Regions from separate parts of the Homo sapiens genome. Here region 1 is linked to region 2. The links come from fine-mapping of genetic effects on gene expression. Tissue or cell type: whole blood. Region 2 holds a variant in brackets; the other region holds the start of a gene. All regions are shown on one strand. Distances are between the middles of the regions.

The links. PIP is the estimated chance that this variant, and not a neighbour inherited with it, causes the effect.
Region 1: it holds the start of EPB42, and the variant in region 2 is fine-mapped to the expression of EPB42 in whole blood (TOPMed, PIP 0.95).

What each region holds. Positions count from the first base shown.
Region 1 is chr15:43,217,416-43,225,511 of GRCh38, forward strand. EPB42 (erythrocyte membrane protein band 4.2) reads right to left here and starts at 3,603. Exons shown (of 13, transcript NM_001114134.2): 1 at 3,401-3,603. The coding sequence starts at 3,410.
Region 2 is chr15:42,513,291-42,521,394 of GRCh38, forward strand. It overlaps SNAP23 (synaptosome associated protein 23), which reads left to right. Exons shown (of 8, transcript NM_003825.4): 4 at 109-157; 5 at 1,947-2,064. Among named protein-coding and RNA genes, the nearest start is that of SNAP23, 22 kb to the left of the region's middle. RefSeq lists a silencer at 4,848-5,048. The variant A/G (reference allele first, on the strand shown) is at 4,150.

The DNA of each region.
Region 1 (8,096 bases), 700 kb after region 2:
CCCCATCTCAGGTATGTCTTTATAGCAGTGTGAGAACCGACTAATACAAGAGGGAAGAAAAAAACAAGGAGTAGAGAAGTCAAAAGATATGTTCAGCAAGCGCAAGATAAGGAACAATGCTGGAAAAAAAGTTGGTTTTTTTGTTTTGTTTTGTTTTTGCAGCAAAGGAATTGTGTACTTTTTGTTCCTTTAATAGCAGAAGGCCATTGGGAATCTCCTTGGTCTGAAAGGCAGCCTGCAGTTTTTGCACTGGCTCAACTGCCACAAGAGAGAAACTATGGCTTTTGCTCACAGGTATGAAATGAGGTCTAACCCACTTCAGGGAAGTGATATGACCCTGATAGCAAGGTCCTTTAGACTACAAGACGGATCTTGTCAAATTCAGGATACTCCTACTTCAAATTTTCCTCAATTCCCAGTCTCTCTGACTTAGAGCTGAAGAGTAGAGGGGAAGGATGTTCTACTTTTCTTTCACTGGTGATGGGGATGATAGAAGATGCCAATGATGTCTATTTAGGGCAAAAGAACTGACATTATTGAATATGAAGAAATGTGAAAGTGTGCAGAGGAGGGAAGGAACCTCTCTGTGTCTGGTCCTCATGTCCCTGGGTGCCCCTTGCATCCTTGTATCCCCCTCCTCCACTTGGCTTGGTCAGGCCATGGCTATAGATAAAGTAGCCATGGGGAGGCTGGGATTTGTAAACTGAAGTACAGCAGCACTCAGAAACCAAAAACGATTCCTCTTTCTGCTTAGCACAAAGCTCGTGCTGGGGCCCAGGGTAAGCCCTGCCTCTGCAGACTGGTTGAGTTGGATTGGATGGTGGAATGCCTTAGTCACATCCTAAGTCATATGACTTGAGCCTCCGTGTATCCGAACCCACGTAATGACCATAGTGTTACGGCAAGAGTCACTAGAATTCATTTGGATTCTTGTTCTGTCTAGAAGGCTCCCACCATCTCTTCTCTACCTGGCAGATGTCTACTCATCTTCCAAGATCCAAAGGCACCCACCTCTGTAGCCTTCACTGACTCCTCCTGGCAGAGGTCAGTCCTCTGGACTCCCACAGTACTCTGCTCCACTTTCTTCAGCACTTATCCCATTTGATACCCATCACCTGCTTAGTCCTCTGCTCCCCTTTTCACTGTGAGCTCCCCAAGATACAGTGCTTTCTCATATCTGCATCCTCTGTCCCAGCAGAACTCAATAGATAGCCAATCAGTGTTTGCTCCGTCAATGAATGGATGAGAACATTGAGACGGCCTTAAAGGAGATTTTCTCAGATACATCACAGGGGCCTCAGGCCCCCACCTGTGCTGCCAGACCCTCGCAGGGCCCCTGAGGTTTCTGCATTCTTTAGGTCTGCCTGGTTTCTTGGTTTATCTCTGCCTCTGCCCCTTTTAGGTGGATTCATTGACTCCTGCCTCCCCTTCTCTCCCACTGGGTCTTGAGGCAATGATACCTTCGTGTTTTCTCACCATCTCCTATTTGTACCACAGCCCATGAGAAGTTGTGTTAACCCGGAGATCATGTGGAATGCTCTTCAGAGGTGCACAATACCCCACCCTCCTCCCTCTCTGCCTTTCACAATACCCCAGAGCTGCCTCAGATGTGCCCCTCAAGCAGTTCTGTGTTTAACGACTGGCTGGGGGGAGGGGGCGGTGAGGGGAAAGGGCGTACTGAGTTACAGCATTTGCCAAGTTCTGTTGTGTAAACTACGCCCCCTGTGGCCAGTCTGAAGCTACTGAGGTGATGTCAGCAAGCGCAGAGCTGTGAAGAGGCGCGGACTGGCACATCATCATGTGGTTTTTCCAGCACAGAGATACAGGAGACATAAACGCCCTCAAGAACATAAAGGTAAAAAGGAGTAAAATACGTAGGAAGTGATGAGTTTAGAGTACTTATTATCTTTCTTTTTAATATAAATTTTTTACTTGTAAGTTTATACAATTTAATTTTTAATAATGCCTGTGTTTAAGAACTGGTTCACAAGGTTCCTCAAAATTTAGCAATTGGCTCTTGCAAGTCAGCACAAGCCAGCTCCAGCCACTGCAGCATGTCATGAGTTCATACTCAGTGATTCTCATCTGGTGGCTACTGGGCCCTCTGCCACCCACTGCCTGGAAAGAATTTAGTGCCCAGGGGCATCCTCTGGTTTGGGACTAGACTAAACAATCTCCTGATATCTTTGTGTTTCTCTGATTGAGTAGATTTTAATTTGTCTGGTCTCTACAGAATAAAAAGAACGATTTGGCCAGGCGCAGTGGCTCACGCCTGTAATCCCAGAACTTTGGGAGGCCGAGGCGGAGGATCACGAGGTCAAGAGATCGAGACCATCCTGGCCAACAAGGTGAAACTCCGTCTCTACTAAAAATACAAAAAATTAGCCGGGCATGGTGGTGGGTGCCTGTAGTCCCAGCTACTCAGAAGGCTGAGGCAGGAGAATCACTTGAACCCAGGAGGCGGAGGTTGCAGTGAGCCGAGATTGCGCCACTGAACTCTAGCCTGGTGACAGAGAGAGACTCCGTTTAAAAAAAAAAAAAAAAAGGACAATTTATTGGTGTCTGCCCTATTTTCACAAGACGTGGCTGAGATTATTGACTTAATTCACCCAGAGTTCTTTTTCTTCCCTTCTCAGCTGTTGGTCTCAGCGTCAGTTGCCCTCCGCACACCAGACCAACCAGGGCAGGGGAGTGAGGCAGTTTCTATAGCAACAGAACCACAGCTGCACCCCACTGTCCCCACACCTCTGCACCATTTCCCTCTGCCTACCCGCTTGCTTCTCCCAGGACACAAAACAGCCAGGCAATTCCCAGGCCAGGATATAATAATTCCTGCCAAGAGTGCTGCGACTCTGACCACCTGTGTTGGTTTCTTGCTTTGTGTCTGCCTCTGCCCCTTTTAGGTGGATTCCCTGACTCCCTCCTCTCCTTCTCTCCCATTTGGTGTAGAAGCTGTGACACCTTCATGCTACCCAGGGTGTCTCTCATTTGTATCAGTAAGCTGTGAACACTTATGCTATGATGACCTTGGGATAAGAATATAAATCCATGTTAACCACCATCACCATCTCACCATCATACAACTATCATGACCAGTTTACCCCAACATGCTACCCCATAACCACCCCACAGCAACATCACCATCACCTCCGCCTCCGCCTCCACCAGCACCCATCATCACACCACGCTCCACAGCCAGCTCACTATCACCTCTACCAGCACCCACCTACCACACCCCCCCCCCACAGCCACCTCATTATCACCAGTACCCCCTCCCCCACCATAGTTATACCACCATCTCCCCGCCTACCATCCATCCCACTTCCTTTAATGAAAACAGGTGATGCTGCGGGGGCTGCATACAGTCCAGCAAGCCCTGTCGAGCGCTGGCTTGGCTCACCCTGTCCCATGGTTGCAGGCCGCTCCTCTTATCCACTTGGCCGCAGAAAGCGCCTCTCTCAAACTGTTGCTTCTGGGCTCCTTCTGGGCTTTCTGTCTTCCAGACAGAAAATATGAAGGCACTTTTGTTGGCTTAAGAATCTGGAAATAGCAAAACCTCCCCCCACTACTCCTGTGAGCACCCTGACATGTTTCTTCTCTCCTACTCCCTCTCTGCTGGTATCTCCTGGACCAGTTACTGGGAGTAACCCTGTTCATTTTATCTCTTGTGCCAGGAGGCCCAGGCAGGAATACGCCTGGCAGCCCTGGGGGAGGGGGTGGGATGGGGAAGACCTGCCAACTAGAGAAGCCTAGAACAAACCTTGAAGCCTCTTGCTTCAGTGGTCTCAAGAGACTCTCAGAGATGTTATCTGGACTGCACTGGAAGACTCTGGAAGAGAGGAGGCCACAAACAGGAGTCCCATATCCAACTCCAAATCTCAGGCCCTAAACGTGACAGGGGCTGCAAGTTGCAAGATGTTCATGGGCTGTTTTGATAATAGAGAGAACACGTGCATCTGCAATTTATCTGTGTGAAAAAGATAAGGAAGTAGAATTTGTTGGTGAAAAATAAATGTATTAAAAGTAGAAGCTGGGGCCCCAACTCTTCCAAGCCTACCTGGTCTGGGACCCTCTACCAGAGAAGGTTGGGAACTATCTTGGGACTCAGGCCCTATGTCTTTTCAATTTTTCTTTCTTTAGTTCCTGAAGAGACAAGAGAAGGATCTCATATTTGGCCCTACCTGGGCTTGTGAAACTGTGTTACCAGAAGCACTTTCAGGGCAGCTGTACTTGCTGCATATACATGAGACGTCTATAGAATGATATAAAACACACTGCCAAAAATATTGGTTGCCTGTGGGGAGGGGATCTGGGCAGTGGGGTAGAAAGGTTATCTTTCTGCTGTTTACTCTTTTATACTTTTAAAACTTTGAACTTTTGAACTCATTTGAAGGATCTTATTATGTAAAAAAAAAAAAAAAAAAAAAAAATGAAACTTCTGCCTTTCACTAGCGCAGTGGCTCATGCCTGTAATCCCAGCACTTTGGGAAGCCAAGTCAGGCGGATCACCTGAGGTCAGGAGTTCGAGACCAGCCTGGCCAATATGGTGAAACCCTCTCTCTACTAAAAATACAAAAATTAGCTGGGCGTGGTGGCAGGCGCCTGTACTCCCAGCTACTCAGGAGGCTAAGGCAGAAGAATTGCTTGAACCTGGGAGGCTGAGGTTGCAGTGAGCCAAGATCGTGCCACTGCACAGCCAGCATGGAGCAAGACTCCATCTCAGAAAAAAAAAAAAAAATCCTTCATAAGAAATGAAGAAGTTAATTTTTCATTATTTGAAGATGTCATTTTTTACCTGGAAAACTTGAATCTACTAACAATGATTATAAAAGGTAATTTAGTGAGCTGGCTAATACCAAAAGTATAGAAGCCAATAGTTTTCATACCTGCAATCAATAACAAGTCAGAAACTGTAATTAAAGACCCAACCTATAATAGCAACAACAACAAAAGGTGAAATTTCTAGAAATAAACTTAAGAAATGTGAAGTGCTGTCAGTAAAACACTTGGAAACGGTATGGAGGGACACCAAATAAGACTTGAGCAGATAAAAAGGAAGATCACCATCCTGTGTAGGACAACTCAACTTTATAAAGCGGTCATTTCTTCCCAAGTTGATCTTAAGTTTAATTCATTCCCAATAAAAACACCAAGATTGTTTTTTGAAACTAGGTAAACTGATTCTAAGGTTCAAAAGGAAATTTCTAAGATAATAATAAAGTGTGACCAGCCTTCCTAGATATGAACACATAATATGATATTACTGTAATTGAAAAGTCCATAGATCAAAATACATGTATTAAATGTATGCTAAATGTGGCACTTCAAATCCATGGGGAAATGAAGGATTTATCAGTAAATGATTTTGGGACAACTAGCTTGTCAAAATACAGTTGGCTTCCTATCTTATGCCACACATCAAAATAAATTTCAGATGGATCAAAACTCTTATTAAATTCTTAAAGTAATAGAAGAAAAAATGAGACACTTCTTCTTAAGTTAACTTGGGAAAACCTTTAAAAATATTATGCAAAACTCAGAAGACAAAAAGAAAATACTGAGAAATTTGATTCCTTAAAAATTTTTAAATGGAAATATTCACAATGTTAAAAGATATGCAGATGGGGCACGGTGGCTCACACCTGTAATCCCAGAACTTTGGGAGGCCGAGGCGGGTGGATCACGAGGTCAGGAGTTTGAGACCAGCCTGGCCAACTTGGTGAAACCCCATGTCTACTAAAAATACAAAAAATTAGCTGAGCGTGGTGGCATGTGCCTGTAATCCCAGCTACTTGGGAGGCTGAGGCAGGAGAATAGCTTGAACCCGGGAGGTTGGAGGTTGCGGTGAGCTGAAACTGGGCCACTGTGCTCCAGCCTGGGCCACAGAGTGAGAATCCGTCTCAAAAACAAAACAAAACAAGATATGCAACAAGTTGGGTAAAATATTTGAAACTCATATCACGAAGGATTAATCTCCTTAATATAAAAGATGCCTATAAATCAATAAGAAAAGAATAACAAACTATTAGAAAAATGAGTAAAGGATATGATAGACAATTCACAGAAAAGGAAATAAAAATGTCTATCAATTCCATGGAAAGATGTTCAGCCTCATTTAATAAAAATGCAAAATAAAAACACCCTGAGATATCATTCTTTCTTCACCTATTAGATTGGCAAAGATAAAAGAGTTTGACAACATTTTGAGTTGGTGATGTTTTAGGAAAATAGTTGCTCTCTTATAATACTAGTGGGAGTGCAAATTTAAATTGGTGCAGCCTCGGCTGGGCGCGGTGGCTCATGCCTGTAATCCCAGCACTTTGGGAGGCAGGTGAATCACTTGAGGTCAGGAGTTCGAAACCAGCCAGGCCAAGATGGTGAAAACCAATCTCTACTAAAAATACAATAATTAGCCAGACATGGTGGTGGGTGCCTGTAATCTCAGCTACTCAGGAGACTGAGACATGAAAATCGCTTGACCTGGTGGGTGGAGGTTGCAGTTAGCCAAGATCATGCCACTGTATTCCAGCCTTGACAACAGAGCAAGACATTGTCTCAAAAAAATAGAAATAAATAAATTAATTAATAAATAATTGGTGCAGCCTCTCCAAATTTGTGCAGCCTCTACGGAGAGTGTTAGTCAGACTGGGTGGCTTAAACAACAGATATTTATGTTTTCACCCTTCTGTAGGATGGAAGTTCAAGATCAGGGCCTTTAGGCTTGGTGTCTGGTGAAGGCTCTCTTCCTCACATGCCCTCTTCCCTGTGTCCACGCGGAAAGAGAAAGATCTCTGGTGTCTTTTCCTTTTCGTCTTCTTATAAGGACATCATTCCTATTGGATTGAAGCCCATTCTTATGACCCCACTTCACCTTTATTACCTTCTTATAGGTCCCATCTCCAAATACAGTCACATTGGGGGTTAGGGCTTCAACATATGAATTTTTGGGGAGGACACAATTCAGTCCAGAACAAAGGGAAATTAAGTGGTTTCTACCAAAACTTTAAATGTCTATACTTTTTGCTGCTCTGCCTATGGATTAGCCATTCTTTATTCCTTTACTTTCTTAATAAACTTGCTCTCACTTAAAAAAAAAAAAGTCTATACTTTTGATTCAGCCATTCTACTTCTAGGTATTTATCATACAAATGATCAAACAGGTGTAAAATGAAATTTATACAAGTATATTCAAGGCATTGATATTTATAATAGCCAAATACTAGAAACTACCTAAACATCCATGCATAAGGTATTAGGTAGATAAATTATGGAACATGCATTCAATAAAATACATAAAGGTGAAAAAGAATGAAGTAGCTCTATATAAAAGGATGTGGAACAATCTCCAAGCTTGATTTGTATGTTTGTTTATTTGTTTTGAGACAGGGTCTTGCTCTGTCACCCAGGCTGGAGTGCAGTGGTGCAATCATGGCTCACTGCAGCCTCAACCCCTGGGCTCAAGTGATCCTCCCACTTCAGCCTCCAGAGTAGCTGGGACTACAGGCATGTGCCACTACATCTGGCTAATTTTTATTTTTTGTAGAGATGGGGTCCCACTATGTTTCCCAGGCTGGTCTTGAACTCCGGTGCTCAAGTGATCCCCCAGCCTTGGCCTCCCAAAGTGTTGGGATCACAGGCATGAGCCACCGCGCCCAGTCCAAGCTGTATTGTTAAGTGGAATAAGCAAGGTAGAGAACAATGTGAATAGTATACTATCTTTGTGTAAAGGGTATGTGTGCGTGGGGAGAATATATATGAATTTGCTTGTGTTTATATAGACTATTTCTAGAAAATTATTGCTTCTAGATAGAGACATCAGTGCCTAGGCACAAGGCTTTTTTCTATATACCCTTTGTATCTTTGTGCCATGAACTTGTATTTATGTGTTAATATTTTTAAAGTAACAAAAACTTTTAGGGGAAAGAAAAGTCTGGCTGAAAGAACTATTTTCACCACAGAGGGCCCCTTACCTAGGAGAGCAATGGGGAGGTTGTGGGCTGGTCTCCCTTTGGGGAATGTGTTCTCCTTCTGGTTCTAGCAAAGAGAATCTTCTCTTTCCCGGTACAGTTCCCATGAGAGCTTCACAGAGATCCAGT
Region 2 (8,104 bases):
CTCTGAGAGCTTGGGTTTCTAAATTATTCTGTGTTGCTCTTGTAGGTTTTGTTTCTGTTGTTTTTGGTTTGTTTTGTTGTACTATCAGCTTTTCCCCCCTTGTCTTAGTCTCAGGATGCAGGAATCAAGACCATCACTATGCTGGATGAACAAAAGGGTAAGTTAAATTATTAGCAGAAATTCTTAATTTGACTGTGATGCCAAAAAGCCCTATCAAATTAGCCACATACAAATTTCAGCCTTTGGGAGAGCCTTCCCTTTGTAAAATAAGAATGTTATGTTTACTTCTTGTCTTCTGATTTGAATTATATATCATGTTCACTGTCTATTTGGGATGGCAGGCAACAATGCCCAATTGTATATACCAAGTATGTGTTAGGCCAGCATGGCTTATTTTGTGTATTGGTTATATGTGCCTTAGACATTATGATAGTAACATAGCTGGGATTACAGGCACCTGCCACCACACCCAACTATGTTTTTCTTTTTTTTTGGGGTGGGGGACGGAGTTTCGCTATTTTTGTCTAGTTTTGGGGGTGGGGGATGAAGTTTCGCTCTTCTTGCCCAGGCTGGAGTGCAATGGCGTGATCTTGGCTCACTGCAACCTCCTCCTCCTGGGTTCAAGTGATTCTCCTGCCTCAGCTTCCTGAGTAGCTGAGATTACTGGTGCCCACCACCACACCCGGCTAAGTTTTTGTATTTTTAGTAGAGACGGGGTTTTACCATGTTGGCCAGGCTGGTCTCGAACTCCTAACCTCAGGTGATCCACCCGCCTTGACCTCCCAAAGTGCTGGGATTACAGGTGTGAGCCACCGTGCCGGGCCTTTTGTTTTGTTTTGTTTTGTTTTTTTAATTTTTATTTTTTGAGTCGGAGTCTTACTCTGTCACCCAGGCTCGAGTGCAGTGGTGCAATCGTGGCTTACTCCAGGATCCTCTACCTCCCACGTTCAAGTGATTCTCCTGGCTCAGCCTCCTGAGTTGCTGGGATTACAGGTGTCCACCACCACACCCAGCTAATTTTTTGTGTTTTTAGTAGAGATAGGGTTTCACCATGTTGGCCAGGTTGATGTCGAACTCTTGACTTCAAGAGTCACTTGATCCGCCCACGTCGGCCTCCCGAAGTGCTGGGATTATAGGCGTGAGCCACCGTGTCTGGCCAGACATTGTGATATTCTTACATCATCCTCAGAAATCAAGTTCTAAAACAGATCTAGATTCAGGTATGCTTGGAAACACTTGAGTTGAGTTGGCCCTGAGTAATCAGGTCTAGTTTTTATTACTCTTATAATAGCCCTCAGGTTTTGAACCTATTATAGAAATGATGGGGATTTGACCTCGTCAAAGTACCCTTAACTTGGTTGTAAGGATGATCTCTAAATAACCGTCCCTTGGTCCTACTATACAAGATTCTTTTTTTTTTTTTTTTTTTCGAGCGGGAGTCCCACTCTGTCATCCAGGCTGGAGTTCAGTGGTGCAATCGCAGCTCACTGCAACCTCCAACTGCCGGGTTCAAGCAATTCTCCTGCCTCAGCCTCCCAGGTAGCTAGGATTACGGCACCCATCACCACACCCAGCTAATTTTTGTATTTTTAGTAGAGATGGGGTTTCACCATGTTGGCCAGGCTGGTCTTGAATTCCTGACCTCAGGTCATCGCCCACCTCGGCCTCCCAAAGTGCTGGGATCACAGGCGTGAGCCACCATACCCAGCCATATACAAGCTTTTTAGAACAAATTTTTCCACAGCAAGAGGCTAGGTGCCTCCGGATCAGTACGTGAAAGATTGTTATCATGTTGAATCGCTTCTAATACCTTTTGACACTGACATACTCACTGTGGGGAGTTATTGGTAGATTCAAGGTTGAAGTTTGCTGTTCCATAATAATAGCATTTTCTGGTTGACACTGTGAATGGAACACAAAGTGTTAACTTCACAACTTATTCTTAGAACAACTAAACCGCATAGAAGAAGGCTTGGACCAAATAAATAAGGACATGAGAGAGACAGAGAAGACTTTAACAGAACTCAACAAATGCTGTGGCCTTTGTGTCTGCCCATGTAATAGGTGAGTTGATAAATTAAGATGGTTTCAAAATAAGTAATGAGAGTACCCCACCTTCTCCCACCAGCTAAGGTCAGAAGTATGACTGGGCTTAATGAGGAACTCTATTAGATAAATCTAAGTTGTCTCTCCTTCAGGCAGATTAAGCTTTTTGTGTAAATACTGCGTGTTCACTGAAAACTGTGACTTACATTTGACCAATCCTGGGATCAAGTCCAATTTCAATTTGTAGTAATACATGAAAAGGTTAGGAAGTATAGGGAAATGTATATCTGGATGATGGAAAGCAGGATGGAGTTATTTTCTTTTCCTTTCAAAGGAGGAGTATTAACAAAATATATATTTTGTGGTAGGCACATGAGGGATGGCCAAAAGAGTAGAAGAGTTGGGAAAGAATGGCAAAACATAAAAAATACATAAATCTAATGTTAGATTATATGATAGTGAGCAAGGCTAAATCTAATGTTAGATTATATGATAGTGACCAAGGCTAGGTATACAGAACTGATAAAGGTTGGGTTGGAGAGCATCTTATAGAAGAGGTAGGATGTGGATTGGGCTTTGAGTGATAAGAAGGATTTGGATGAACAGGGAGGAACAGTGAGGGCATTTCCTATGAAAGGTTCAAAATAAAGATTAACAAGGAGCTTGACTTAACTGAGCTGTGTGACTCATGTAGATGAGAAGTGGAAAGTAAGATATAAGTAGGTAGTAGAGGAACTTGAATGCCAAACTAAGGAGTTGACAGATTGGAGTGGAGTATAAAAAGAAACGACAGTATCTGGAGATTGAATGACTGTACTCACTGCTGAAAGTTTTGTTTTGTTTTTTTTCTGAGACAGGGTCTCTGTTACTGAGGCTGGAATGCAGTGGCGTGATCACAGCTCACTGCAGCCTCTCTTTCCTGGGCACAAGAGATCCTCCCACCTTGGCCTCCCAAAGTGCTAGGATTACAGGCATGAGCCACTGCACACAGCCAAAGTATCCTTTTTTTTTTGAGACGGAGTCTCACTCTGTTACCAGGCTGGAATGCAGTGGCGCAGTCTCAGCTCACTGCAACCTCCGTCTCCTGGGTTCAAGTGATTTCTCCTGCCTCAGCCTCCCGAGTAGCTGGGACTACAGGCGCATGCCACCACACCCAGCTAATTTTTGTATTTTTAGTAGAGACGGGGTTTCACTATGTTGGCCAGGATGGTCTTGATCTCTTGACCTCATGATCCGCCCGCCTTAACCTCCTCAAGTGCTGGGATTACAGGTGTGAGCCACCACACCCGGCCTCAATGTATTCATTTTTAAAGAGGTTCTTAGACATTAATATTTCATCCAGTTCTCAGCTGGTCTTGTAAACCAACAGCGGTTATATTTTTATATTTTCAGTAAGTGTTTTTATGAAACAACATTTTTATGCCATTTCTGTTATAGAAAGTAGAGATTAATTGCTTGTCAGTCAACTTTAGTGTTTGTTTTGGCCATGAGGAAAGGTTTGACAGTGTTCTTCCTAGTCTTATCCATTGGCTTCCTATTCTAACACAAGTCTGTTGACCTGTTTACACCTTGGTTGACCAACTGAAAGTTCTGTATTTTTTGAGACGGAGTCTCGCTCTGTCACCCAGGCTGGAGTGCAGTGGTGTGATCTCGGCTCACTGCAACTTCCACCTCACGGGTTCAAGTGATTCTCCTGCCTCAGCCTCCCAAGTAGCTGGGATTACAAATATGTGCCACCATACTCAGCTAATTTTTATATTTTTAGTAGAGACAGGGTTTCGCCGTGTTGGCCAGGCTGGTCTCAAACTCCTAACCTCAGGTGATCTGCCCGCCTCTGCCTCCCAAAGTGCGGGGATTACATGCGTGAGCCACTGCTCCCGGCCAAAAGTTCATATTTTAATAACTATGACTTGTCAATCAGAGTTTAGCAGATTACTTTAAGCAAACAAGTTAAAATGTACAGATTATTTGATACAAACTCTTAGCTATGTTTTACAAACATAATTGTACCTTTCTCTTGTGTTCCATGTACCTTCTTGGAAGAGTACAGAAGAGAGGAAGTAGATGAATTTTCTTGAGATCAGATGTTAGGAGAACAAGGAG[A/G]AAGAAGTCTCCCCTAAAATCTTAGAGGAAGATCAGCTCTAAGTCACGTGTTGATAAATAGGAAGAGCACTGAATTAGACCTAAGATGGTCTAATATCATAGAAAGTGGGAAATGCAGCTACAGAGTATTAATTTTATGTCTCTTTGTGTATCCCAGCCAAGCATAGGCAAGCTTTTCTTGAAGACTGGTGGGAAACAAGGTAGGGTATGGTCCTGAATCAGCATTCTTCAGCCTCTAACCTCAGTAGAACCCTTTCTCAGTGGATCAAGAGAAGGCATTACTTTTTTAGAGATGGCCTCTCCCTCTGTCTCCCGGGCTTGAATGCAGTGGTGCCACCATAGCTCACTGTAGCCTCAAACATCTGGGCTCAAGCAATCCACCCACATCAGCCTCCCAAGTAGCTAGGATTACAGGTGTGTGCCACCATGCCCAGCTAATTTTTGAAATTTTTTGTAGAGACAGGGGTCTTGCTATGTTGCCCAGGCTTGTATCAAACTCCTGGCCTCAAGAAATCCTCCCACTTCAGCCTCCCAAAGCACTGGGATTACAGGCTTAAGCCACTGCACCCAACTGGCACTTCTTTCTTTTTTTTTTTCTGGCACTTCTTGAGAGATGGAATCAAGGGGCTGCTGTAACAAAACAGTTCCCTTAAGAGAAGAAAGTATTATCTCAGTTAAAGATGTCTGATTGTAATTGTCTTTCTTCCACCTATTTCTTTCTTACACCATTGAGACCTTGGCCAGTATGATATCTCTTATCCTCAGCTCTGTTCCTATCATTCTTGCCTGTGTCTTGATCTTTCTAATCTGCTAGTCTGTGTTTCAGTTAGGCTCGTCACATGAATAACCATAACATGAGCTTCTTAAAGGTAGACATGAGATCTTAGTCCTATGTGTAAGGCCTAGTCTTCATACCAGCAGTAGCAGTAACAACCCAGGTCAGGTCCAGAGTTCCTTATTTGCCATTTGGAAATACTTTTTCTTTTCTTTCTCTTTTTTTTTTTTTTTTTTCTCGAGACAGGGTCTCGCTCTGTTACCCAGGCTGGAGTGCAGTGGCAGTCATGGCTCACTGCAGCCTCAACCTATCCTCCAGCGTCAGCCTCCTGAGTAGCTGGGATTACAGGCACATGCCACCACACCCAGCTAATTTTGTATCTTTTGTAGAGACAAGGTTTCACCATGTTGGCCAGGCTGGTCTTGAACCCTTGGGCTCAGGCAGTCTACCCACCTTGGCCTCCAGAAGTGCTGGGATTGCAGGCATGAGCCATTAAGCCCTGCTGGCCATTCAGAAATCTAAAAAACTCCTAAAGTTTTGTTTTATTTTTGCTGTAATGGTGCCACAACTCATTAGGGTATAAAATGTAACCTGAACTGAAGCTATGTTTAGTCTTTATTACTTGCTGTAGATATTAATTGGTTTCACTACAGAAATACTCTTTTTGAGTCAGGGTCTCACTCTGTCACCCAGGTTGGAGTACAGTGGTATGATCTTGGCTCACTGCAGCCTCGACCTCCTAGGTTCAAGTGATCCCCCCACCTCAGCCTCATGAGTAGCTGGGACTACAGGTGCATGTCACCATGCCTGGTTTGTTTTTAAAAACTTTTGTTTCTTCTTCTTTTTTTTTTTTTTTTTGAGACGGAGTCTCACTCTGTTGCCCAGGCTAGAGTGCAGTGATGCAGTCTCAGTTCACTGCAACCTCTGCCTCCTAGGTTCAACCGATTCTCCTGCCTCAGCCTCCCAAATAGCTGGGATTACTGGTGCCTGCCACCACGCCCAGCTAATTTTTGTATTTTTAGTAGAGATGGGGGTTCACCATGTTGGCCAGGCTGGTCTTGAACTCCTGACCTCAGGTGATCCGCCTGCCTCGGCCTCCCAAAGTGCTGGGATTACAAGCATGAGCCACCATGCCTGACCCTGTTTCTTTTCTTTTCTTTTTCTTTTTTTTTTTTGAGACAGAGTTTTACGTTGTCACCCAGACTGGAGTGCAGTGGTACAATCTCGGCTCACTGCAACCTTCGCTTCCTGGGTTCAATCGATTCTCATGCCTCAACCACCCAAGTAGCTGGGATTAGAGGCATGCACCAACACCTTGCTAACTAATGTATTTTTAGTAGAGACGGGGTTTTGCCATGTTGGCCAGGATGGTCTTGAACTCCTGACCTCAAGTGATCCACCCACCTCGGCCTCCCAACGTGCTGGGGTTACAGGCATGAGCCACCGTACCTGGACTTTAAAAAGTTTTTGTAGAGATGAGTTCTCACTATGTTGCTCAGGCTGGTCTCAAACTCCTAAGCTCAAGCAATCCTCCCACATTGGCCTCCCAAAGTGCTGGTATTACAGAAATGAGCCACCACACGCAACGTCACTACAGAAATATTAATGTATTTAATTATGTGGTACTGTCCAAAACATCTTGCCCCCAATGGATTGGGGTAACAGTTGTGGGCCTGTGCATTAATTTAAGGTACTATTCTGAACATGTTAATTTAATCCTTAAACAGTAGCCTTAATATGAGATAGATGTTTTTTATTATTATCATTTTACATCCAGGCTACACTATGTAGTGGAAGAGCTGGGATTCAAAACCAGGCAGAACCCCCTTGCTTTTTTTTTTTTTTTTTTTTTTTTGAGACAGAGTCTTGCTGTATCACCAGGCTGGAGTACAGTGGTGTGATCTCAGCTCACTGCAACCCCTGCCTCCCAGGTTCAAGTGATTCTGCTGCCTCAGCCTCCCGAGTAGCTGGGATTACAGGCGTGCACCACCACGCCTGGCTAATTTTTGTATTTTTAGTAGAGATGAGGTTTCACCATGTTGGTCAGGCTGGTCTCGAACTCCTGACCACGTGATCCATCCACCTCGGCCTCCCAAAGTGCTGGGATTACAGGCGTGAGCCACCGCGCACAGCCCACAAATCCTTTTTTAAAATCACATATCTTAGGCAGTAATTGATAAATTGTAATTCTAATTAACAAGAATTTGAAAGCAGACAGATTTAAAATGGGAAGTCTCAGAATAGTAAACTGCTTGATGTCCCAGTTTAAACATTCTTTTTTTTTATTTTTATTTTTTTGAGATGGTGTCTCGCTCTGTTGCCCAGGCTGGAGTGCAGTGGCACGATCTCGGCTCACTGCAAGCTCCGCCTCCCGGGTTCACGCCATTCTCCTGCCTCAGCCTCTCGGGTAGCTGGGACTACAGGCGCCCGCCACCACACCTGGCTAATTTTTTGTATTTTTAGTAGAGACGGGGTTTCACCGTGTTAGCCAGGATGGTCTCGATCTCCTGACCTCGTGATCCGCCCGCCTTGGCCTCCCAAAGTGTTGGGATTACAGGCGTGAGCCACCACACCCGGCCTTAAACATTCTTAGATAAGGTATTCTTCTGTCTTAACTTGCCTGTTTTATAAAGTCTAACAATGGCACATAGTTTGAAGACAAATTGGCATTTCTGGACCACTTACTAGAGAAGTTCCAAATTGGCACTACAGGTTTACTGCTATTCCGATCTTAAGTCATACCAAGGTGTAAAAATTCAGCTCCGACTAATTAAAATGAATATTGAATTATATTTCATTCAGTGGTTTAGTGCTTCTTCCATCCTGCTCACTGGAGACACAAATATGAGTAAGGCATACCTCTGGCCCTGCCTGTTTTATTTATCATGACATGATTTTTTATACCTCACATAGTATTGGATATACAGTAGTTACTCAATAAACACTTGTTGATTTGAGTGTCCTTGAGAAACTTGTTGGCTGGTGGGAGAGTTTGACGTGTAAAAAGATTTTTTAAAATTACAATGAAAAAATATATAAGAAAATAAAATACATAATAGAAGTCATTAAGAGAAATCTTAATCACTAAGAGGAAGGAGTCTCAAAGCACTCCATTGGTTTTTGCCTTCTCTCATATTGTCTAATTTTAGGAAAGAATATCATCACCCAAAATTCTGAGGA